7 linked regions of the Homo sapiens genome follow. The protein of the gene in region 1 interacts with the protein of each later gene in a pairwise test. Each region holds a gene or a part of one and is shown on either strand. Other genes may lie near its edges. The genes, in order: MIPOL1, ARNT2, KIAA1328, FMNL2, CCDC33, RNF6 and TTC12.

What was found.
Region 2: the proteins of MIPOL1 (region 1) and ARNT2 interact in a two-hybrid assay, tested with the Homo sapiens proteins (one large-scale study listed by BioGRID and IntAct).
Region 3: the proteins of MIPOL1 (region 1) and KIAA1328 interact in binary tests that used the Homo sapiens proteins (3 or more experiments, as listed by UniProt).
Region 4: the proteins of MIPOL1 (region 1) and FMNL2 interact in a two-hybrid assay, tested with the Homo sapiens proteins (one large-scale study listed by BioGRID).
Region 5: the proteins of MIPOL1 (region 1) and CCDC33 interact in a two-hybrid assay, tested with the Homo sapiens proteins (one large-scale study listed by BioGRID).
Region 6: the proteins of MIPOL1 (region 1) and RNF6 interact in a two-hybrid assay, tested with the Homo sapiens proteins (one large-scale study listed by BioGRID and IntAct).
Region 7: the proteins of MIPOL1 (region 1) and TTC12 interact in binary tests that used the Homo sapiens proteins (3 or more experiments, as listed by UniProt).

The regions. Positions count from the first base shown.
Region 1 is NC_000014.9:37,204,437-37,207,936, forward strand, and holds part of MIPOL1 (mirror-image polydactyly gene 1 protein), read left to right. Parts: intron 1-3,500.
Region 2 is NC_000015.10:80,407,382-80,410,881, forward strand, and holds part of ARNT2 (aryl hydrocarbon receptor nuclear translocator 2), read left to right. Parts: intron 1-3,500. UniProt on the Homo sapiens protein: Transcription factor that plays a role in the development of the hypothalamo-pituitary axis, postnatal brain growth, and visual and renal function. Specifically recognizes the xenobiotic response element (XRE).
Region 3 is NC_000018.10:36,835,627-36,839,126, forward strand, and holds part of KIAA1328 (protein hinderin), read left to right. Parts: intron 1-3,500. UniProt on the Homo sapiens protein: Competes with SMC1 for binding to SMC3. May affect the availability of SMC3 to engage in the formation of multimeric protein complexes.
Region 4 is NC_000002.12:152,341,674-152,345,173, forward strand, and holds part of FMNL2 (formin-like protein 2), read left to right. Parts: intron 1-3,500. UniProt on the Homo sapiens protein: Plays a role in the regulation of cell morphology and cytoskeletal organization. Required in the cortical actin filament dynamics.
Region 5 is NC_000015.10:74,267,326-74,270,825, reverse strand, and holds part of CCDC33 (coiled-coil domain-containing protein 33), read right to left. Parts: intron 2,485-3,500; coding exon 2,368-2,484; intron 1-2,367.
Region 6 is NC_000013.11:26,212,315-26,215,814, reverse strand, and holds the end of RNF6 (E3 ubiquitin-protein ligase RNF6), read left to right. Parts: intron 1-222; coding exon 223-1,991; 3' UTR 1,992-3,040; downstream 3,041-3,500. UniProt on the Homo sapiens protein: E3 ubiquitin-protein ligase mediating 'Lys-48'-linked polyubiquitination of LIMK1 and its subsequent targeting to the proteasome for degradation. Negatively regulates axonal outgrowth through regulation of the LIMK1 turnover.
Region 7 is NC_000011.10:113,338,583-113,342,082, forward strand, and holds part of TTC12 (tetratricopeptide repeat protein 12), read left to right. Parts: intron 1-9; coding exon of another isoform or gene 10-87; intron 88-191; coding exon 192-252; intron 253-703; coding exon 704-892; intron 893-2,081; coding exon 2,082-2,151; intron 2,152-3,254; coding exon 3,255-3,343; intron 3,344-3,500. UniProt on the Homo sapiens protein: Cytoplasmic protein that plays a role in the proper assembly of dynein arm complexes in motile cilia in both respiratory cells and sperm flagella.

The sequences.
Region 1 (3,500 bases):
TTCATGTTGTGGGAGGGATCCAGTGGGAGATAATTGAATCATGGGTGGTTTCTCTCATACCGTTCTCATGGTAGTGAATAAGTCCATGAGATGTGATGGTTTTATAAGGGGAAACCCCTTTTGCTTGGCTTTCATTCTTTTTTGCTGCCGCCATGTGAGATGTGCCTTTCACCTTTCACGATGATTGTGAGGCCTCCCAAGCCACGTGGAACTGCGAGCCCATTAAACCTCTTTCTTTTGTAAATTGCCTGGTCTCAAGTATGTCTTTATTAGCAGCGTGAAAACGGACTAACACAGTAAACAGACTAACACAGTAAATGGACTAATACAGTAGAGTGGGGTGCTGCTGAAAAGATACCTGAAAATGTGGAAGTGACTTTGAAACTGGGTAACAAGCAGAGGCTGGAATAGTTTGGAGGGCTCAGAAGAAGACAGGAAAATGTGGGAAAGTTTGGAACTTCCTGGAGACTTATTGAATGGCTTTGCCCAAAATGCTGATAGTGATATGGACAATAAAATCTAGGCTGAGGTGGTCTCAGATAGAAATGAGGAACTTGTTGAGAACTGTAGCAAAAGCAAAGAGACTGGCGGCATTTTGCTCCTGCCCCAGAGATTTGTCGAACTTTGAACTTGAGAGAGATGATTTAAGATATCTGATGGAATAAGTTTTTTGTTTTTTTTTTTGAGACGGAGTTTTGCTTTTATTGTCCAGGCTGGGGTGCAGTGACACGATCTCAGTTCACTGCAACCTCCACCTCTGGGTTCAAGTGATTCTCCTGCTTCAGCCTCCTGAGTAGCTGGGATTACAGGCATGCACTACCACGCCCAGCTAATTTTTTGTATTTTTAGTAGAGACAGGATTTCATCATGTTGGCCAGGCTGGTCTGGAACTCCTGACCTCAGGTGATCCACCCACCTCGGCCTCCCAAAGTGCAGGGATTACAGGTATAAGCCACTGCACCCAGCCAGTGGAAGAAATTTTTAAGCAACAAAGCTTTCAAGAGGTGACATGGCTGCTGTTAAAACACATTCAGTTTTTTTTTTTTAATACCTTAAGTTCTAGGGTACATGTACACAAAGTGCAGGTTTGATACATAGGTATATACATGTGCCATGTTGGTTTGCTGCATCCATCAACTCATCATTTACATTGGGTGTTTCTCCAAATGCTGTCCCCCGCCAGCTCCCCATCCCCCAACAGGCCCTGGTGTGTGATGTTGCCTACCCTGTGTCCAAGTGATCTCATTGTTCAGTTCCCACCTATGAGTGAGAACTTGCGGTGTTTGGTTTTCTGTCCTTGTGATAGTTTGCTCAGAATGATGGTTTCCAGCTTCATCCATGTCCCTGCAAAGGACATGATCTCATGCTTTTTTATGGCTGCATAGTATTCCATGGTGTAAATGTGCCACATTGTCTTAATCCAGTCTGTCATTGTTGGACATTTGGGTTGATTCCAAGTCTTTGCTGTTGTGAATAGTACCATATAAACATACATGTGCCTGAAACACATTCGGTTTTATAAGGGAAGCAGAGCATAAAAGTTCAGAAAATTTGCAGCCTGACCCTGCAATTGAAAAGAAAAACCCATTTTCTGAGGAGAAATTCAAGCCAGCTGCAGAAATTTGCCTAAGTAACAAGGAGCCAAATGTTCATCCCCAAGACAATGGGGAAAATGTCCCCAGGGTATGTCAGAGGTCTTCATGGCAGCCCCTCCCATCATAGGCCCAAAGGCCTAGGAGGAAAAAATGGTTTCATGGACCAAGCTTAGGGTCCCCATGCTATGTCCAAGGACTTGGTACCCTGTGTCCCAGACACGCCAGCCTTGGCTGAAAGGGGCCAATGTAGAGCTCAGGCCATGGCTTCAGAGTGCGCAGGCCCGAAGCCTTGGAAGCTTCCATGTGATGTTGAGCCTGTGAGTGCACCGAAGTCAAGAACTGGGGTTTGCAAATCTTCGCCTAGATTTAAGAGGATATATGGAAATGCCTGGATATCCAGGCAGAAGTTTGCTACAGGGATGGGGCCCTCATGGAGAACTTCTGGTAGGGCAGTGCATAAGGGAAATGTGGGATTGGATCCCCCACACAAAGTCCCTACTGGAGCACTGCCTAGTGGAACTGTGAGAAGGGGGCCACCATCCTCCAGACCCCAGAATGGTAGATCCACTGACAGCTTGCACCATGCTCCTGGAAAAGCCTCAGACACTCAACACTGATACGTGAAAGCAGCTGGGAGGGAGGCTGTACCCTGCAAAGCCACAGGGGCAGAGCTGCCCAAGATGTAGGAACCCACCTCTTGCATCAGTGTGACCTGCATGTGAGACATGGAGTCAAAGGAGATAATTTTGGAGCCTTAAGATTTGACTGTCCTGCTGGATTTTGGACTTGCATTGGGCCTATGGCCCCTTCATTTTGGCCAATTTCTCCCATTTGGAATGGCTGTATTTACCCAATGCCTGTACCCCCATTGTATCTAGGAACTAACTTGCTTTTGATTTTGCAGGCTCACAGGTGGAAAAGACTTGCCTTGTCTTGGATGAGACTTAGGGCTGTGGACTTTTGAGTTAATGCTGAAATGAGTTAAGACTTTGGGGGATTGTTGGGAAGACATGATTGGTTTTGAAATGTTAGGACATGAGATTTGGGAGGAACCAGGGGCGGAATGATATGGTTTGGCTGTATTCCCACTCAAATCTCATCTTGAATTGTAGCTCCCGTAATTCCCTCATGTGGTGGAAGGGACCCAGTGGGAGATACTTGAATCATGGGGGCAGTTCCCCCATACTGTTCTCCTGGTAGTGAATAAGTCCAGGTGAGTTCTGATGGTTTTATAGAACCCTTTCGCTTGGCTTTCATTCTCTCCTGCCACCACCATGTGAAATGTGCCTTTTACCTTCCATGATGATTGTGAGGCCTCTCGATCCATGTGGAACTGTGAGTCTATTAAACCTCTTTCTTTTGCAAATTGCCTAGTCTTGGGTATGTTTTCATCAGCAGTGTGAAAACAGACTAATATAGGTAGCAATAGACAACTACACTATTCATTAATATCAGAAAAGCTTTAATCTGTTTTTATCAGTTTAAACTTATTTGAGGATATGATATTATTATTATTATTATTATTATTTTTTGAGATGGAGTCTCTCTCTGTTGCTCAGGCTGGAGTGCAGTGGCACGATCTTGGCTCACTGCAACCTCTGCCTCCCAGGTTCATGCGATTCTTGTGCTTCAGCCTCCCGAGTAGCTGGGATTACAGGCACGTGCCATCATGCCTGGCTAATTTTTGTATTTTTAGTAGAGATGGGGTTTTACCACATTGGCCAGGCTGGTCTTGAACTCCTGACCTCAGGTGATCTACCCACCTCAGCCCCCCAAAGTGCTGGGATTACAGGTGTGAGCCACCATGCCAGGCTGAGGGCATGCTATTTTTATATCTTGAAAAACCAATTATTAACAGTTTTAACTATAAATCCCATACTTGTTTTTGGTTATAATTTAATTGCT
Region 2 (3,500 bases), on another chromosome or scaffold:
TGGATATAATACAGGTCCAAATTTGGAATCTGCTCCTTCAAGGTCCCCTGTTGGGGTTTTAGGTTAGGATTCTACCAGCTACTCTGGGAGAGGAGAAGAAAGGATTGGGCTCCCAGATATTCTCCTCATGACTTCTGCTATGACAGTCCTGGTTATATTCCTCATATCCTGTGGCCCCTGGTGCCTCCTCCTTCTGGGTCATTTACAGTCCTTACGTTGGTCACTGAAACTGTTGTATTGGCTGATTTTCTCTTTTCTCTCTGGCCAGGAATGACATATATCCTTTAGACTAGAGAGTGAAGTCATAGAATCTTCCGTTTTGTGTGTCTGTGTGTGTGTGTGTGTGTGTTGTTTTGCTGCCTTTTTGAATGACATTTAAGTGTTTCTGATGTATAGGAAATAGTGAAGATTTGAATTAGTTATATACATAAAAGGGTATTTGCAGCTGAAATGGCACAATTAAGAAGGAGATTGTTTCCCCAATGTCATTGTTCCATCTTAATCTTTTGTAATTTAAGCATGAGGGAATCAGCTACAAATTCAGACCAGTAATCATTAGGAATTAAGCATTATGTGGACATTCTCTGAGATGAGTATTTGCAGAGTAATTAATAAGGCTCATATGTTTTAAAGGATTTCAAAATTATGTTTTAAGAGATTTGGAATTCCACTTTTTTTTCTGAAATCAATTATTGGATTTTTTCCCCACTTCCAGGTTTCTGGTCTTTGGCATTTCAATTTGGAATTAATTGTATAGTGCAGGAAGATTCTCTGGACAAATTGCCTTAGATGGAGGGACATTTGAATCAGCTTGTTGAACTGATTGGATATCTTTGATATGCCAAGCTGTCTGCAGGGAATAGAGCAATGTGGAGATGAGGGAGAATATTTCTTGACCTCAGGGGGTTCTAAGTCTACTAGGGGAGGCATAGGTAGACTAACTTAATAACACCAGGTGGAATGAAATGAACGTTGACTAGGCATGTTCATATCATCATGGGGAGCCAGAGGAAGTCTTATGGGAGGTAACTTCTGAACGTGGGCCTTTTGAAGACAGAGATTTTGACTTATAGAGAATTTAGGAATGGTCATTTTGCGCTGATGGCTGGCGTGTGAGGCAGACAAGATTTGTGAAAATATGGAATACTGTCAAGTGGTTGCTTCCTCAGTGCTCTTGGGGACTCAGCAGGACACCCAAGAATGTGGGTAGGTTTTGAGCCTTTGAGACGTGTGCGCTATGCTTGCAAGCTGTCCTGCCTTGAGTAGGGCTGGAACAGCCAAACCAGCTGGACATACAGTTGAGCCCAATTTCTCTATATCCTGTCCTTCATTGAATCTACGAGCCCATCAGTTGCAGGACACATCATTCTTTTATGGACTTATAAGAAAAAAATGAGCTGATGGCATTTTGGCTTTCATCAAAAGAAAGAAAAAAAGGAAGAAGTGATACCTGAAAAAAGAGATTTATTTATTCCTTCAGTATATATTTATTTTAATTAATTAATGAATTTTAAAAAGTTAATTTTTAAAGGCTCCTTTTTTAGGGCAGTTTTAGGTTCACAGCAAAATTGAAAGGAAGGCACAGAGATTCCTCATATATCCCCTGCCCCCACACATGCACAACCTCCCCCATGATCAACATTCCCCAGCAGAGTAGTACATGTGTTACAATTGATGAACCTACAATGACACATCATTATCACCCAAAGTCCATAGTTCACATTAGGATTCACTCTTGATGGTTGGTAGACGTTCTATGGGTTGGACAAATGTATATGACTTATATCTACCGTTATAATATCATGCAGAGTATTTTCACTGCCCTAAAAATTCTCCATGCTCCACCTATTCATTCCTCCCACTTCCGAATTCTTGGCATCCACTGATGTTTTTACTGTCTCCATAGTTTTGCCTTTTCCAGAAAGTCATGTAATTGGATTCATGCATTACGTAGCCTTTTCAAACTGGCATTTTTCACTTAATAATATGCATTTACATTTTCTCTGTATCTTTCAGTGGCTTGATAGCTCATTTGTTTTGGTGCCGAAGAATATTCCATTGTCTGGATGTACCACAGTTTATTTATTCATTCACCTACTGAAGGACATCTGGGTTGCTTCTAAGTTTTGGCAATTATGACGAATGAAGCTGCTAGGGGCTAATACTTACTGAGTAACTACTATGTGCCGGGGACTGATCTTGGTTCTGGGATCACTGTGGTGAGCAAATTAGGTATAACTCCTACCATCATGCTGCTTGCTAGCAAGACAAATAGTCACAAAAGAGTAACACAATTGGGTTAGTTATGAAAAGTGTAAATGTTATGAAGAAATGATCCCCTGAGATAAAATAACCAAGGGACCTAAATTAGAGGATTAGCAAAGGCCATTTGAAGTCAGTGAAAGCCTCTCTGAGGAGTTGACCCTTGAGTCAAGCTCCAAGGAATGATGAGAAATGTGAGGAAGAGCATTCCAGGCACAAGGAAGAGCCCCTTCAAAGGCCCTGAGTTGGGAAGAGCTGGAGAACAGGGAGCAAGGGTGAAAGCGGTGTGAGAAGCTGGAGCTGCGGTAGAGGCCAGCTCACGGGGGACCACTTTTGGGTTAGGGACTGAGACTTCATTTTTAAAAAGCGCTGGAAATCTACTGAAGGGGGTTTGAGCAAGGGGCATGATCTGACCTGCACTTTTAAATGCTGCTTCTGGCTGCTGTGTGGAGAGCCAATTGGACTGAAGCGGGAGGAAAAGTAAGACTCCAGTTAGATGGTGCTAACTTAGGTCAGGGGCTGTCAGTAGAGAATGAGAGAGAGGGAGGTGGATTTGAGTTATACTGGGGGCAGGGATGCCATGCTGAACAACTCCAGGGGCACCAGTTACTTCCCTGTCCATCCCTTGGGCACGACATGTCCTGCTTGGGGCAGAATCATCATGACTTCATTGTAAGGAGTTAGGGGAAGAGTCAAGGACGATTCCCAGCTTTCTGTCCAACACCTGGGTGGTTGGAGGTGACAGGAAGTTAGTGAGAGGCAGGGGGCCTGTGGGGTGTGCTCCAGGCTTCAGTATTGGACAGCTGAGTTGAGCTGCTTGTGCGACAAGCAAGTGGAACTGTCATGGAGGCAGTGGGACACATGCTCCCAGAGATCTGGGCTGGAGAAGGAAACAAAGAGGGATGTTGGCCAGCCATTTACCAGGTTCTCTAAATGCTTTCCTTGGGGTAAGTTAGTTCACAGAACATAGAGCTTTTGGTCCAAGTACCATAGTTCCCAAACAATGCTTGCATTTACTGCTTTATTGTCTGTCTTTATTGAGATTCACTAAGACACAAGGTCATAGGGAGATTATTTCTGCATCTTTTCCAGATCCAGCAATCCATTCATTTTTATCTATCTATCTATCTATCTATCTATCTATCTATCTATCTATCTATCTATCTATCATCTATCTACCTACCTATCATCTGTCTACCATCTCTCTCTCTCTCTCTCTTTCTCTTTCCCTCCTTTTG
Region 3 (3,500 bases), on another chromosome or scaffold:
CAAAAGAACTACATTCTGATCTGTGTGGCATTGGTAAATCAAACTGATGAGAATTGCTTTTTAATTAGGCATCCTTTTTGATTTTTATTCTTGTGAATTTATTTGATAGATGAACCCTCGTAAAGATGAGGGACAAATCAATGACTAGGCATAGTAATAGTATCGGTGCATTCCTTTGGCACATGTCCTATCTGACCAGTTTATTTTACTTTAATTTTTGTTATATTTTCCCTCTGCAACCAGAGTTGTTCAATACCACTTCACACTCACTAGGATGTCTACACAAAACTTGTATATGAATGTTCTGGAATCTATAACCTGTGGACCAAATCCTTCTGCCTGTTTTATAAATAAAGGTTTTTTGGAATACAGCTGTGCTCATTGTTTTACATAATTGTCTATGGTTGCTTTTGTGTTACAATAGCAGGGTTGCTACAGAGACTGCATGCCCACAAGCTAAAAACATTTACTATCAGACCTTTTATAGAAAACTTTTTTCAGTCTGTGAATTATGTTCTCAAAGATATTTCCAGTGCCTCATTTATTACTACAGGATTTTACTGTGATTGAATCAAAAGGCCTACTTTACGTTACTTGTACCAGTGTACCCACTTCACACTGGGGTGTGAATAGTTGAATTTGCAAGTTCTTATCAAAAAAAGTTAAAAAATGTTTTTTCACATAATGGTTGATTTGTTTTACATTGAACAATAGCCTTCTTTTAGATTAAGTTCATATTTTTGTCCTATTGGCTATAACTTTTGATTGGATTATTTCAGTGGCTTCTTTAGAGATTATAGTATACATCTTTCATTTATCATAGCCTATTATCAAGTGATATTTTCCCACATTACCTATAGTTTAAGGACCTTTCAACACTGTACTTTATTTCTCACCTCCTGACTTTTTTGATATTGTTGTCATACATTTTACTTATGTGCACAGACCCCAAAATACATATTACATTTGCTTTAGTCAACTCTCTTTTTTTTCAAATTGAGATATAATTTGCATATAAAATTCACCTTTTTAAAGTGTACAGTTTATTATTTTGATTTTGTATGTGTTTATATTCACAGAGTTGTGGATCCATCACCACAATCTAGTTTCGAAACATTTTTATCACTCTAGAAAGAAACCCCATACCAATTAGGCACTTCTCATTCCCCAGTCATCTCAGCCCCTAGCAAACACTAATCTGCTTTCAGTCTCTATAGATTTGCTTGTTATTGATGTTGCATATAAAAGGAAATCACATAATATGTGGCCTTTTGTGACTGGCTTCTTTGATTTAGCATAATGATTTCAAGGTTCATCTATTCTGTATCATTACTTCATTCCTTTTTATGTCTGAATATACATTTTGTTTATCCATTTATCAGTCAATGGACATGTTCAACTTTCTAGCTATTATGAATAATTCTTCCATGATCATTCATATACAAGTTTTTGTGTAGACATATATTTTCAGTTCTCTTGTGTATATACCTATAAGTGAATTGCTGTGTCGTGTAGTTTTATGTTTAACCTTTTGACAAAATTCCAAACTGTTTTTTAAAGTGGTTACACCATGTTACATTCGACTAGCAATGTATGAGGATTCAGATTTCTCCACATTCTTGCCAACATTTATGTCCATCTTTTTTGAGGATGGCCACCCTAGTGGGTGTGAAGTGGTAATTCAATGTGATTTTGATTTGCATTTCCTTAATGACTAAATGATGATGAGCATGTTTTTATGTGCTTCTTGGCTATTTGTGTATCTTCGTCAGACAAATATCTAGTCATATCCTTTTTTAACTGAGTTATTTGTCTTAGTACTGTTAAGTTATGAGTTCTTTCTAAATTCCATTTACAAGTCCCTTATCAGATACATTATTTGCTAATATTTTTTCTCATTCTATGCATTGCCTTTTCACTTTTTTATTGGTGTTCTTTGAAGCACAGAAGTTTAAAATTTTGATGAAGTTCAGTTTATCTAGTGTTTTCTTCTGTCTCCTTTGCTTTGGTGTCATATCTGAGAAATTGTTGCCTAATCCAAGGTCACAAATATTTGTGCCTATTTTTTTTCTAAGAATTTTAAAGGTTTTACTCCTACATTTAGTTCTCATTCCATTTTGAGTTAATTTTTGTATATGGGGTGAGGTGGTAGTTTAACTTTATTCCTTTGCATGTAGATATCCAGTTGTCCCAGCACCATTTGTTAAAAAAACTGTCCTTTCCCCTTTGAATTTCTTGGCACCCTTGTCAAATATCTGTTGACCATAAGTGTAAGGGTTTATTTTTGGACTCTCTGTATTCTGTTCCATTGATTTATATTTTTATTTTTGGAATTAGGAAGTATAAGTCCTCCAACTTCTTCTTTTTCAAGATTGTTTTGGCTATTTTGGGTCCCAGTGTTTCCATAGGCATTATAGAATCAGCAAATGTTTTATACTTTTTGATGTTATTAGAAACACAGTTGTTTCTGAATTTCACTGTTGGATTGTTTATTGCTAGTATATAGAAATTCAGTTGATTTGTGAATTGATCTTGTATCCTGCAACTTTATCAAACTATTTCTAATCTAATAGTTCTTTTGTGAATTCCTTACCATTTTCTCTATATAAGATGAAGTTGTCTGTGAATAGAGATAGTTCACATATTCTTATTGGATGCCTTTATTCCATTTTGGATGCATTTTATTTTAATTGCCTTTTAAAGAAATTTTACAAATGCAACAGAAGTCTTTTAAATCTACTCATGTAGTTACCATTTCTGGTGTTTTCATTCTTTCACGTGTATCCAGATTTCCTAAAAGACTTCCTTTAACATTAGTTCAGGTATGCTAGGAAAGAATTTTTTCAGCTCACGTATGTCTGAAAAGTCTTTATTTCTCTTTCCTTTTCAAAAGATATTTTTGCTGGTTATAAAATTCTGAGTTGATAGTTTTATTCATTCAGTGCTTTAAAGATGTTGCTGCACTGTTGCCTGGCTTGTATTGTTTTTAAGAAGTTGGCTGTCATTTTTATTCCTCCTTATTTTTCTGTGTGTATGTGTTTAAATATGGCTGCTTTTAAGATTTTCTTCTTATCACTGGTTTTGAGCAATTTGGTTATAGTATACCCTGGAGTAATTTTTTTTTTTGAGGTGCAGAGTTGCTGTGTCGCCCAGGCTAGAGTGCAGTGGCACGATCTTGGTTTACTGCAACCTCCGCTTCCCAGGTTCAAGTGATTCTCCTACCTCAGCCTCCTGAGTAGCTGGGATTACGGGCGTGCACCGCCACACCCGGCTAATTTTTGTATTTTTAGTAGAGATGGGGTTTCACCATGTTGGTCAGGCTGGTCTCGAACTCCTGACCTCATTATCTGCCCGCCTCGGCCTCCCAAAGTGCTGGGATTACAGGTGTGAGCCACCATGCCCATCCTACCTTGGAGTAATTTTTAAAGTATCTCTTTTGTTTGAGGTTTGTTGAGCTTTTTGGGACTGTGGGTTTATAGTTTTCATCAAATTGGGAAATG
Region 4 (3,500 bases), on another chromosome or scaffold:
GAAAACAAAATTTCCAGAACATAATACATTGTGATTCATTAGTTGACATTGGCTTTTGAAGAGCTTTCAGGTGGAAATGTGTGTAGGGGTGTTCTGTGTGGTCTAAAGAGTAGAATTCCCCAGGGTCAGTGACTGAAAGTCATATGAGCATAGGGAAAAATATTCTAACATGTAGAGTTGTTGAAAATGGATGGTGAGTTCTCCGTTAAAGTTATTCAGATAATCTGTGTGACAAACACTGGTGATTGGAAGGCCCTTTGCAGCCCAAGAAGATAGGAAGTACATTATTGGCTCGAAAGTTGCCCTCTTTGAGGTGAGTCTGCAACTTGCAGGTTCTAGACATAGAATTATAACACCTGAGAGTGGGGAAAGATCTCCTGGTAGGTGCTTCCTGGGCTTAAAGAAGAAAAAGATACGTATGGGCTGATGTTTGTTCTGGAAATTCATTTGACTTTATAAGAACTGTTGCTTAAAGGGTTTGGTCTTAATGAACAGTGCTCTTCTTTTTCATATTTAGAGCTTGGGGAATAGGGACAAGGTAAAGTGGGCTCTCCAGCCCTCAGGTTTAAGCAAGTAATAGATGTCAAAAAAGTAGCTAATACAAGAAGCACTGATTATAGATGATTGCCCCTCCTTTGCAAGAGGACGCTGTAACTGGAGTACTTTTAGGAACAAAGCATTGAATCCTTATAAAAGAAGGAACAGCCTAGAGGAACTTAGGAGGGAAGGTGAGTTACAAGCTATACAGTTGCTTGGCAGATCTCATCTTGTAGAGCGGCTCTTTATGGAGTGCCACTGCCATCCCTGCAAATAAGAAGTGTGTCCCTAGGCTTTGGAGTCATGGTTCCTTAGAGAGCCTTCATGTACCTTCTTAGTTCTCACCTACTTGAACACTGGGGACAGAGATAGCTCATTGCTTGTCTTCCCTTTAGAATTCCATCTGTTCATACTGCAGGGTGATCTTCCTCCCTCCTCCCCAGTGACCCCTTCCTCCTTTCCAGAAACCTGTCTTTCAACATAAATGCCAAGGACTATGCAGTTTCCAACTGATAGCATATAATTTGGAAGCAATGTCTAAGGGAAGAGCTGTTAGGTTGGAGAGCTGCCTCTTGAACTGTGATCTCAACCAAGGCCCGGAGATGTGGACCAGACGGGCTTGGAATTCTGAAATTGGGCAACATTCAGCCCTATTTACCAGGTATGATGGTATTTGATGTTGACAGATAAAAATGTACATTCTTTTCACTCTCTGAAAAAACAAACAGAAAAACATGACCATCAGTGTTCACTGGTAGGCAATTATCACAAACTCTCTATGATTTCTAGTCTTGTATAGTTTCTAGGACAAACTTCATATAGTTTCTGTGATTCCATGATCTTCAGTGTTCTTGTTTAGCCTGTAATTGACTTTGGTGACTCTCATTTCACATGTAACCTTAGTCTCCTTTTTTCTTTGCAGAAGTTCTGATGCATTTGTAAGCCCCTGTAACCATTGCCACAGAAGCTGAAAGCCTTGAGGTGTTTAGACCCTGCTATCCCCAGAAGTAATCTCACTTGACTGACTTCTGTGCATAGAAGATGCCCATGGCTTGGTTTTGGGAATGATGTCAAATATCAAATAGTTCATATTTTTTTGTTTTGAGATGGATTCTCCTTCTGTCATCTGGGCTGGCGTACAGTGGCGTGATCTCAGCTCACTGCAACCTCTGCCTCCTGGGTTCAAGCGATCCTCCTGCCTCAGCCTCCTGAGTAGCTGGGATTACAGGCACGCACCACCACACCCAGCTAGTTTTTGTACTTTTAGTAGAGACAAGGTTTCACCACATTGGCCAGGCTGGTCTTGAACTCCTGACCTCAAGTGATCCACCAGTCTTGACATCTCAAAGTGCTGGGATTACAGGCATAAGCCACCACACCCGGCTTAAATAGTTCACATTTTTGACCATGTGCCTGGTGCTGGGACACTAACGTGTGACTGATGGTGCTTTTAAATAACACATCTCACTAGTCTCAAGACCTGTCTTGGTTGAGGGTTTGCTCAGGAACCTGACTTCCCTTCCTTGTTTTTTTTCTCTCCGTGGAAGTTTGGCAGAACACCTTATTTAAGCTAGAATAAGGGTATTGGTAAGTTAAAGTAGTGGTTCTCAAACTTGGTTGTGCATTGACATCACTTGGCGATCCTCAGAAAGTACAAGTGGGCCAGGTACAGTGGCTCACGCCTGTAATCCCAGCACTTTGGGAGGCCAAGACAGGAGGATCACTTGAGGCCAGGAGTCCTAGACCAGTGTGGAGCAACATAGGGAGACCTCATTTCTACTACTAATGAAAATTAGCAGATGTGGTGGTGCATGCCTGTAGTCACAGCTTACCTGGGAGGCTGAGGCAGGAGGATTGCTTGAGCCCAGAAGTTTGAGGTTGCAGTGAGCTATGATCATGCCACTGCACTCTAGTCTGGGCAACAGAGCAAGACTATCTCTAAAACAAAAACAAAAACAAAAACAGAAACCCACAAATGCCTGGGTTCCACTCCCAGAAATTCTGATAAATTTGTCTGGAATGTGACCTGGGCATCAGGATTTTTAAAAGCTCCCTAGAAGGTTTGAATGTGCAGCCAAGGTTGACAGCCACTGTGCTAGATGTTTTCCCCCTTTTTCTTCCTACCCCAAAGACCAAGCCAATTTGCCTATGAGTTAAAACCAGCAGAAAACAAGATAATGAGTGTAATAGAAAAGGGATTGTTTAAGAAGTTAAACAAAATTTTGGATAGATTAGGCAAAATTGAGAAGGTTGAGAAGAGTTAAAAAAATGAAAGATATTTGATTCAACTAAAAGCAACAAGATGAAAAAATACAGAAGAAAAGGATAAATCCTGTTGAATGGTAGAGAGACTTTATTTAACTATTTAAGAAATGACCACCAAATTATCATAATGAAAATTTGTGAGAAAATTCTATACATATGGTGTAAGATTAAGCAATGACCCAGAAGTATACTTCTGGAGTAGAACAATCAATAAATCAATTGCATTTTTGCTTAGGCCTCCATTCTGTAGCCTAATTGTTTGTTGGTTCAATGCAGCCCTTTTGCTTTGATCTCTGGTTTTACCATTTACAAAGACTTGATGAGCTTGGCTTCCTGTAGTGAAATTCAAATATACTTGTGAAATGTAAACAACATTCATTTATTAAGAATCCTATAATCAAGGCAAATTGGCATGCTTATATAAGCAATTAGCCTTGAGAATAGAAAGATAAATAGGATGCTAGGTCAAGAATGAGCTGATTGTTCTCAATGCAAGACTCTAGTTATTTCTTTATTCATTATAATGTAAGCAAATAGACATTCCTCTTATTCATAATTTTTAGCATTTGTGGTTTGGGGTTTGAGGACAGCATATGTGGTTTTCTGGAACTGAGAGGATAGTAGCAATTATTGTTTCATTTTGATTTAGAAATATAAATCAATCTTATAAGGAACTGTAGGTAGTTGATTTATGACTA
Region 5 (3,500 bases), on another chromosome or scaffold:
ACAGCGTCACCTTGCTCCAACCCTCACTGACCCCCTGCTCAGTCTGGGCCTGGGGGACACTGGAAGGCAGACAGGGGAGACAGGGAGTCTGTCCCCATGCGCCTCTGCTGCCAGCCTAAGAGGCCCTGATCTCCCGGACCCTGACCCTCACCCTGTATCCACCAATGGCTCCCACTCTCCCTCAGCCCTCACCCACCTCCCACTCGGCTCTCATTCCTCTTGCTCCTTCGATTCCTCTGCCTCCTCACTAGCCTCTCCACTTCTGTTCCTTTCCCTAATCCATCCTCTTTCCCAGGCAATTTGACACATGATGGCAAAAGTGCTCTTGTTAAAAATGAACTGGGTCACGTTATTCCCTGCCCGACACCCCACAAGCCCCTCTGCCGTGTCTCCCGACAGGCCCCCAGCCCCTGTCTTCTTGCTCCAGACTCTTTTACTCCTGCCACTTACCCCTCTTATTTCTGCCACAGGGTCTTTGCACATGCTGATCCCTCTACTCAGACTCCCTGCAGCTCCCACCAACCCATTGTGGCTGGCGAGGGCCCAGGAGTGAGGCTTGTTCTGGATCATTCTCCCTTTTCTCCCTCCGCACCCTCCTTTCAGGCTCCTCTTTCAATACCCATCTCAGCTGGTTTTCCCACCTCTAACCCCACACAGGTGTGAGCTGATGGGCACGTACAATAGTCCTTAGGGCCTCGCAGCTCTCACTGAGGGCTCTGGAGACTGAATCCCTTCATCACATTCAAAGGATTGAATCTCTGATGGTACATTTCACACTTTGGATGGGTCTGGGGTCTGGGGCTGAGGGATTTCACTGGAGGCTGGCAGGCCCTATTGCTCACAGGCTCCCCAGCAGGTGTAAGACTAAAAAGGGGGTGGTGGCAGCTAATTTGCACCTGTTCTGTGTGGACTCTGATCAGGTGTGAATGAGACAGCTGCCCAAGTACACCTGCTCATGACAGCCTGGGAAGTAGCAGAAGTTCCTGCTCCTGCCATGCGCTCACCATCAGGAGCAGGCAGCTGCTCTGTGGCCATACCTGTCGCACGGATGGAGAGGGCATCTGTGCTGGGGCAGGAGAGTGGGCAGGGTGCTGTGAGCCAGAGAAGGCCCCTACTCTACCGCTCTACCAGGCAAGTCAGAGGGCTGGGTGGGGTGGGGCAGCTCCACAGCAGCCCTAAAGTTCTGCCTGTGTCTTGGGGATGTGGCCTCCTCCCTGTGGGGTGCGGCCTGGGGACAGCAAGGCCAGGCTGTTGCCCCTCTTCCTTGTTCTGTGTGTGTGTGAATTGCTGGCTGTCCTCAGGAAAGGGCGTGATAGAAGGTGGCGGGGAGCAGAGGGCGCCTGTAGGTCTGATATGCTGGCATCAGAGGGGTGGCTGTAGGGGAGTAGAAATGTGGGTTAGGAGTTTTGGCTCCCATACCATACTCCCCTTGGGTCTCAGTGTCCCTGGCTGTGAAAGAAGGCAAAAGAATGCTTCCTTCCCTGCCAGGCCCACGGTGCTGGTGGGAAGTAGGGGGGTGGGAAGGATAGGAACAGATCAGCCATGTTTGGGTAGGTGGAAGCTCAGAGCTTGGGTCCTGTGGCTCCCACCCTGATCATACTCAGGCCATAGCTGAATTTGAATCTGTCACCCATGGGCAGTTTGAAAGTTGGGGGGAATGGGAGAGGGGCCAGGTCCCTGCATCATGTCTGCTTTGAGCATCAAGAGTTCCTCCCAAAGCTGCTAATTGGCCTAGGGGGTGGATGGTGATGGGTCAAGGGGCAGTGGCCAGGCCCAAGGTGGGCTCAGCCCTGTCCTGGCTAATGGAAGAGGCTCTGTAAACAGTTGCTGGATGAATAAATGAATGAATAAACTAAATACCTAATCGCCAGACCAGTCAAACCTCTTTAGACACAGTGCTGAAGGAAAGCTCAAGGAGGCCCTAAACTTTTGCTTGGGGGCCAAGGCACTATCCCAGGAGGGGAAGAATAGAGCAGGAAACTGCTGGGCTGTGGGCTCAGGGGGAGCACGGGGCTTCTCCCCTGCCCCTAGCATAAGATTCGGGGAGACAGGCTCTGGTCCCCACTGCAGCACAGAGACGGTACACCAGGAGCAGCAGTGTGGCTGAGCCCCTCCCCGCCACCTCCAAGACAGAGAGGGAAGGAGAAGAGGCTTGAGCATCTTCATCCTTGTCATCCCTGCCAAAGGGCTTGTCTTCACAACTCCTTTTGCTATTTTGGAAAGGCCTGGTTGCTTTTTCCATTCTTGACATCTCTGCTCCACACCCTCAGGTCAGCCAGAGGGGGCTAAGGGCAAGGCGTGGGGCCTGCTCAAAGCTTGGCCCTTTCCCACCCCCACCACCACCCCAGAGGGCCCCAGCCCTGGTACCTCCAGAGCCATGTGGTTGCAGCCGATGTAGCGGGGTATGAAGCTGCTCTTCCGAACGACTGTTGCGTACAACTGGGTCTTGGCAGTGGCTTCATCGGCTTTCCCAGACTCAGTGGGCTGGAGACAGGGTTGGGGCAGAAGACACAGAGGAAGGAGAGTGTCTAAGGGGCAGATCCTGGCCATAAATCCAGCCCTCTGCAGACAATCACTTGGCATTGCTCCGCTGGGGCTCCGAGCTGATAATTAAAGCTCATGGTCCCTGTGAGCCCTTCCAAGGAGATCAATATAATAAATCTTCCCTTTTCCATTTGAATATTTCATCACCCTCACAAGGACCACTGCCTGTCTGCTTTCCAGTAAAGATGTGATAACAAGGCCTGGGTTGTAAGTGAACAGACAGCCAGGGGGCCTGGGTGATGCCCCCAGAATTACAGCTCAAGTGCTGAGTCTCCCAGGGTGAGTAGCACATCTCTCTTTTACTTCCCTGCATGGCCCATCCTGAAGCCCTGGGATTGGGGTTCCTCATGGGGCCTAAGAGAAGGTAAAGCCCCCTGGTGCCATGATTGAAGAAATGCTTAGAAGAAAGTTCAGTGCTGGCCCGGAGGAGGGATGGGGGAGGGTAACTGACCAAACTGAGCACCTACTGTATGCCAGGAACCTTGCCTATCATTGCTTGAGATCCTCAAAACGACTGTGCCAGCTTTGCCAGTGAGGATGGAGGCCTGGGGACCAAGTGGCTTCCATGGGTATCCAGCTAGGAGGCAACAAACTTGGTCTAGGACCCCCGACAGTCTGGCTTCACATTGTTCTTTACTCTCAACCACTTTCAGGGTCTGGAATGCACAGTGGGGAGGGGAATGTGATGCTTCTGTTCATCTCTGGCTCACTACCTGGCACATAGTAGGTGCTTCATAAGTCCTTGAGCAATGAGAGAGTGAATTCTACCCCTTACCCTTCAGCACTAGGAGGGAGGACAGGCAGGGGTCTGGCCTGGGAGGCCCAACCTTGGAGTGAGGAGCCTCAGGCCCCTCAGTCCATGGCTTGGACCCAGTTGCTCACTCCAGGGGTGCATTCCAGGGAATGCTTTATTCCATGTACCCCCCAACTCTCCTGGGCCTTCTGGCCAAGGCAGC
Region 6 (3,500 bases), on another chromosome or scaffold:
TTTAAAGCTTTGTAACTATGTAAATAGTAATTTAATTTTTATAATATGCTTATAGTAGATATACTTTTCTTTTAGAAAGTTGTCTTTTTGCCATCTTTCATTCATTAAAATCCACAGATGTTCTTTAATTTATTACAAACTTTGTTTTTCTTACAAGTTTTCAATAAAGCTGTAAGGTGTGTCTTAGGAATTGATCTTAAGTTGATTTGCTTTGCTTTCTAGACTCAGAAGTCCCTAGAGAAAGTTCACATGAAGATTCTCTTCTAGAATGGTTGAACACCTTTCGGCGCACAGGAAATGCAACTCGAAGTGGACAAAATGGGAACCAAACTTGGAGAGCTGTGAGTCGAACAAACCCGAACAATGGAGAGTTTCGGTTTAGTTTGGAAATCCACGTAAATCATGAAAATAGAGGATTTGAAATTCATGGAGAAGATTATACAGACATTCCACTTTCAGATAGTAACAGAGATCATACTGCAAATAGGCAACAAAGGTCAACTAGTCCTGTGGCTAGGCGAACAAGAAGCCAAACCTCAGTGAATTTCAATGGTAGTAGTTCCAACATTCCAAGGACTAGGCTTGCTTCAAGGGGGCAAAATCCAGCTGAAGGATCTTTCTCAACATTGGGAAGGTTAAGAAATGGAATTGGGGGAGCAGCTGGCATTCCTCGAGCTAACGCTTCACGCACTAATTTCAGTAGTCACACAAACCAATCAGGTGGTAGTGAACTCAGGCAAAGGGAGGGGCAACGGTTTGGAGCAGCACATGTTTGGGAAAATGGGGCTAGAAGTAATGTTACAGTGAGGAATACAAACCAAAGATTAGAGCCAATAAGATTACGATCTACTTCCAATAGTCGAAGCCGTTCACCAATTCAGAGACAGAGTGGCACTGTTTATCATAATTCCCAAAGGGAAAGTAGACCAGTACAGCAAACCACTAGAAGATCTGTTAGGAGGAGAGGTAGAACTCGAGTCTTTTTAGAGCAAGATAGAGAACGAGAACGCAGAGGTACTGCATATACCCCATTCTCTAATTCAAGGCTTGTGTCAAGAATAACAGTAGAAGAAGGAGAAGAATCCAGCAGATCCTCAACTGCTGTACGACGACATCCAACAATCACACTGGACCTTCAAGTGAGAAGGATCCGTCCTGGAGAAAATAGAGATCGGGATAGTATTGCAAATAGAACTCGATCCAGAGTAGGGCTAGCAGAAAATACAGTCACTATTGAAAGCAATAGTGGGGGCTTTCGCCGAACCATTTCTCGTTTAGAGCGGTCAGGTATTCGAACCTATGTTAGTACCATAACAGTTCCTCTTCGTAGGATTTCTGAGAATGAGCTTGTTGAGCCATCATCAGTGGCTCTTCGGTCAATTTTAAGGCAGATCATGACTGGGTTTGGAGAACTGAGTTCTCTAATGGAGGCCGATTCTGAGTCAGAACTTCAAAGAAATGGCCAGCATTTACCAGACATGCACTCAGAACTGAGTAACTTAGGTACAGATAACAACAGGAGCCAGCACAGGGAAGGTTCCTCTCAAGACAGGCAGGCCCAAGGAGACAGCACTGAAATGCATGGTGAAAACGAGACCACCCAGCCTCATACTCGAAACAGTGACAGTAGGGGTGGCAGGCAGTTGCGAAATCCAAACAATTTAGTTGAAACTGGAACACTACCCATTCTTCGCCTTGCTCACTTTTTTTTACTAAATGAAAGTGATGATGATGATCGAATACGTGGTTTAACCAAAGAGCAGATTGACAATCTTTCCACCAGGCACTATGAGCATAACAGTATTGATAGTGAACTAGGTAAAATCTGTAGTGTTTGTATTAGTGACTATGTAACTGGAAACAAGCTCAGGCAATTACCTTGCATGCATGAATTTCACATTCATTGTATTGACCGATGGCTCTCAGAGAATTGCACTTGTCCGATCTGTCGGCAGCCTGTTTTAGGGTCTAACATAGCAAACAATGGGTAAGGTGATGGGATCTACTCAAATACTGTTTTTTAGTAGAACTGAATGTTCAAGCATTGTTTTGCTGAGTTATTTGTGATTAGCTAACCAGGATGAAAAATAACAGATTATATATAGTTTGAACTATTTTTCGTGTGCTTTTTTAAACTTGTTAAAAAGAAATTTATATAAAATTTAAAATACAAATGTTAAATTATCCAGAAATACAGAATAGTTAATATTGCTAGAACCAAATAACCTCTAAAATGTTTTTATTTTGGTAATTTTGTCATGCTAAGCACTTTTGTATCTGCACAATTCAGTAGGTTAAGAATCAATCTTCTTTTTCTTAATAGTACAGCAGACTTTAGCTTCAAGTTTCATAGGCTTAGTACTTATATCTAGACATTTGTGTCTAAATAAGCTTTTCATTAACTTTTTATTTTAAGGACAGTATCTTTTCATGAAAGAGTATTTGGCTGAATGTTTGCTATATATATGTTACTTGAAATGTTAAATTTAATATGCAGCATACCATAGGTGTATATATAGGTATATAATTTTAAGGTTAAAATATTCAGTCTACAAGTTTGGTTCTTATTTAAGCTTTTGGGCTAATACTGCATATGGCACAATGTTTAATATTGGCAAGTTCATCTCAGAGAAAGGGGATTCAGATATAATTTTAAAGTAGAGATAATTTACTGAAGCGTCTCTGACAATCTAACTTATTAGACAGCAAGCAATATATAATACTGAAAAAGTATTCAGAAATGGAAAATTTACATCATATAGGTTATTTAACTTGTGTTCAGCCTTTTTGTAACTTTTTTGAAAGTGCAAACAATTCTTTGGATTATTAAATAAGGTATACAGTATGCATGGTTTCTCAAATTTAGTTTTAAAATCTAAAAGTCTATAAAGAATCAGATGCATAGGCAATATGTTAAGTTCACTTGGAGGCTAAAAATCTCCAGTGAAAACAAAACGAAAACCTTTAAGAGAATGTAGAGTTTATATAAACACAAAGTATGCATTGAAGATCTGTTTCTACCAATAAACATTAAAACAAAGACTGTATGTGAACTATGTTTTTCTGTTGTTCCACTGTGGTTTATTCACCCTCCACTAATATTTCATACTAGATGCCAGGCAGTGTTATGGGATAGAGTATTTCCCAGACGACAGACAAAAGTCCCTGGCTTCATGGAAAAGACATATTTGCTCTTAGAAACTGAATATCAATTGATAAAGTGAATTATTATTCTTACTTTCATATTTGCTTATTAATATATGACAGGATTTTCTTGTGGTGATACTGTTTGGGCAAAATCACAAGAACAGTACTTAGGCCAGATTCTGTGAGATTTAGAAATATCTCCACATTTAATTTTCCTTTCTGACTGGTGACTATGTTCAATTCATTAGGTTAGATGCATGCCCAGGAATGTTAAGGAGTGCATTTACATGGAGTAAAAGGTTTTCATAAAAGTTGTGACTTTGTTTGGAGTAAATTATTTATGTAGGTCAGTT
Region 7 (3,500 bases), on another chromosome or scaffold:
GCCCCCTAGAACTGGAGACGCCTGAACAAAAATGTCAAATGCACATTGTGTTCCTATGCCTGTCTCCTGCACTGGGAGCAGGAGGAGGTGAGGAGAAAATAATGAAGCAGCCAAGCCCAATGACACCCAGTGTCTTTCTCATAATCACCTTTACCCCAACCACTCTTCAAGGTCTTGTTTCTTTTTTCCAGTCTAGAGAGTGTTATAAGAAGATCTTAGAAATAAACCCCAAGCTGCAAACCCAGGTGAAAGGTGAGCACGTTCCTGCTGAGGTCCTTCATCTGAACTCCACCTCCCTCTGCCCCCTGCCTTAGAATGCCTTCCGTGCTTTCACTGCCCTTGGCCACTAGGCAGCGGCGGATCCTCTTTCCTGCACAGTTGGGTCCTCTGTGTTAACCAGCCCACTCTGCTCCTCTGTTTGCTGTGCTCCCTTGCAAATAGTAATATTTTCCTTCTTCATTTTCTACACCATCCTCCCTTAGACACTTTTAGACTCCCTTGAATCCCCAACAAGGTTTAAGATTCTGGTTGTAGATTTAGACTGTTTCTAAAATTTTCCTTGCTAACGAAGAGTTTTAATTATTTTAATGCTTTATGCTTCTCAAACTCCCATCCTCAAAAGAAAGGAAAAAAAAAGGTTGCTTCTTGTGTGGTATTGTTGATTGTTAGGGTTTTGTTTTGCTTTCCTTTCTTGTTTTTCTAGGTTACCTGAATCAAGTAGATCTTCAGGAAAAAGCAGACCTTCAAGAAAAGGAAGCCCACGAACTGCTGGATTCAGGAAAGAACACAGCCGTGACCACCAAGAACCTCCTGGAGACCCTTTCCAAGCCTGACCAGATCCCCTTGTTCTATGCTGGGGGGATTGAGATCCTGACTGAAATGATAAATGAGTGTAAGCCAGAGATGTGTGTGATCTCATGAGTGCTGTCAGTGTGAAGGGACACATTCAGAGGTCTGCCTTTACCAGGCCAAGAATCCCTCCCTTCCTTCCACAAATATTGATTAAAGATATACGCTAATGTAGCTGCTAAAAGGGGTGCACAAGAAATGTCCTCCGACTTCTGCTCCATCCTCTCTACAGAGCATGCGTACACTCAGCACACATGCAATAAACATACACAACACAACACGTACACGTGGCACACACTCGATATATACTTACATACACCACACATGCACTCAGCTTTCACTCACTTGAATATATCCTTGTATTACACACACACCACATACCACACACAGCACACTCACACCATAAGTACTCATGTCAGTCCACATATCCTGCGCACACTCCACCCTCACATTTTCACCACACACCCCATGCACATCCTGCGTGTACTCCACACATACCCCCACAGACACCTCAAGCATCCCATACCACCTCGTACACCTTCCCTCCACTGTGGAGGAATGGAAGACAGAATTTTGTAGGTTAAACTGTAAGGTTCACCCAGTTACAGTTAATGGCTGCATAGGATGTGAAAATGGTTTCAGAGCAAACATCAGCTCTCCTACTAATGAGGGCCATACTGTTCTCTTTTACTAGCTCTTGTAAACATTGTTACCAAGGCTTAAATAATCTCTATACTCAGTGACAGCATGTTGTTTGTACAAATAGATGGAGTGTCTGACTTCTCTTTAGTGTACAATGGAGGGCACACAAATATCCCCTTCAGCAGTTTCTTGGAGATTATAAATTCCTCTCTGGAGCTTGGAAATAGCTTTGAAATAAATATTTAAGAACAGATGGATATGCTGGTACTTCCCATAGGTTAAGCAGCTCTGGGAGGCTCTCTGAAGATTACAGAATGATGAGCTGTGCAGATAGCCCTCGGGGCCACCCCAGCTCTGCTCTCCTTCTCTAAACAGTCCCTCCGCCTGAGAGGCACTGAGGCCTCTGACGCTGAGAGGCTGCTGACCATTGTATGTTTCAAAATGTAAAGTTCATTTGTTCCTGCCAAACCATTCACGTGGGTACCGTGGCATTCCATATTAGGTTTCTCATTAGCAGGTGGCTGTGTTGCAGCGAGACACCAGCCAGCCAGTTTGGGAGTCTGAAGTGGTTTTCTTTGTATCTGTTTCAGGCACAGAACAAACTTTATTCAGAATGCACAATGGATTTAGTATCATCAGTGACAACGAGGTCATAAGAAGGTAGGGATGTTCATAGAGACAGCCCAGCAGCAAAGCAAGGGAAGATAACCACTGCTTATGAAATCAGACACGAGGCACATAGACAGTCACGTTTCTGAACATTACCCCCCTTCAGTCAGTAGTGGGGGGCTCTCCAGGAGTGCAAAGCTACTCCACGAACATCTTTGAGTGCTTTCCCTCAAGACATTGGAGTTACACTGCAGCTAACAATTGAGGCTGGGCGCGGTGGCTCATGCCAGTAATCCCAGCATTTTGGGAGGTCAAGGCGGGCGGATCACTTGAGGTCAGGAGTTTGAGACCAGCCTGGCCAACATGGTGAAACCCCGACTCCACTAAAAATACAAAAATTAGCTGGGCATGGTGGCAGGCACCTGTAATCCCAGCTGCTCAGGAGGCTGAGGCACGAGAATCGCTTGAATCTGAGAGGCGGAGGTTGCAGTGAGCCGAGATCACGCCACTGTACTCCAGCCTAGGCGATACAACCAGATTCAGTCTCAAAAAAAGGAAACAATTGAAGAGAGAGGAACAGCAGCACTTCCCAGGGCTCCTCTAAGCTCTTCAAAGTCAGAGAAATGATCATTCTTGCTGCTTTCCCACCAGTTTTTGCCAGGTTGTCATTTGTTCATTTCTTCTTTTGGAATTTGCTGATCATATCAAGAAGTGATATAAATATAAATGGGCCAATCCCATTTATAATTTCATCTGAAGAAAGACCTGTATGGTAGGATGCAGTTTGCTAAAGTGACTGTATTTTCATTTCAGTTGTTCTGGTGTGCTTCCTGAGGCTTAGGATACCCGTGTGGGTTGGAGTCACCAGTACATGTCTGTGTGCTCAGCCACAGTTCATTGGTCCCAGTGCAGCCATCGCCCATGGCCCTGGCTCACTGCCCAGCCTCTGTGCAGCCCTGGCTTCCTCAGTCTGCATCCGTGGCCTGGGACTCATGGTTCCGTGATTGATCCTGGTGACCCATGGCTCTGGATTATAAAACTATACTTTCTCAAACCTGTATTTGGTGAATCTAGGGGTGAAATAAAACCAAATGGAAAAGAAAATCAAGACTGATTTTCAGACTTTTAAGATAGCTCTCCTTTGTCCATTCTAGGTGTTTTTCCACAGCAGGAAATGATGCAGTTGAAGAAATGGTCTGTGTGTCTGTTCTCAAGCTCTGGCAAGCAGTGTGCAGCAGGAACGGTAAGCCTGGGTAATCACCGTTGATCACCATTAATGCGCTGCGTGCAGGAACTACGCTGTTGGGTGGACTGTCCTCCCCAAAGGCCAGGCCCTGGAAAGCTGATGTCTAGACTTCCGCACACACCCACTCCCTCCAGGAAAGCTTATGGATCAAAAG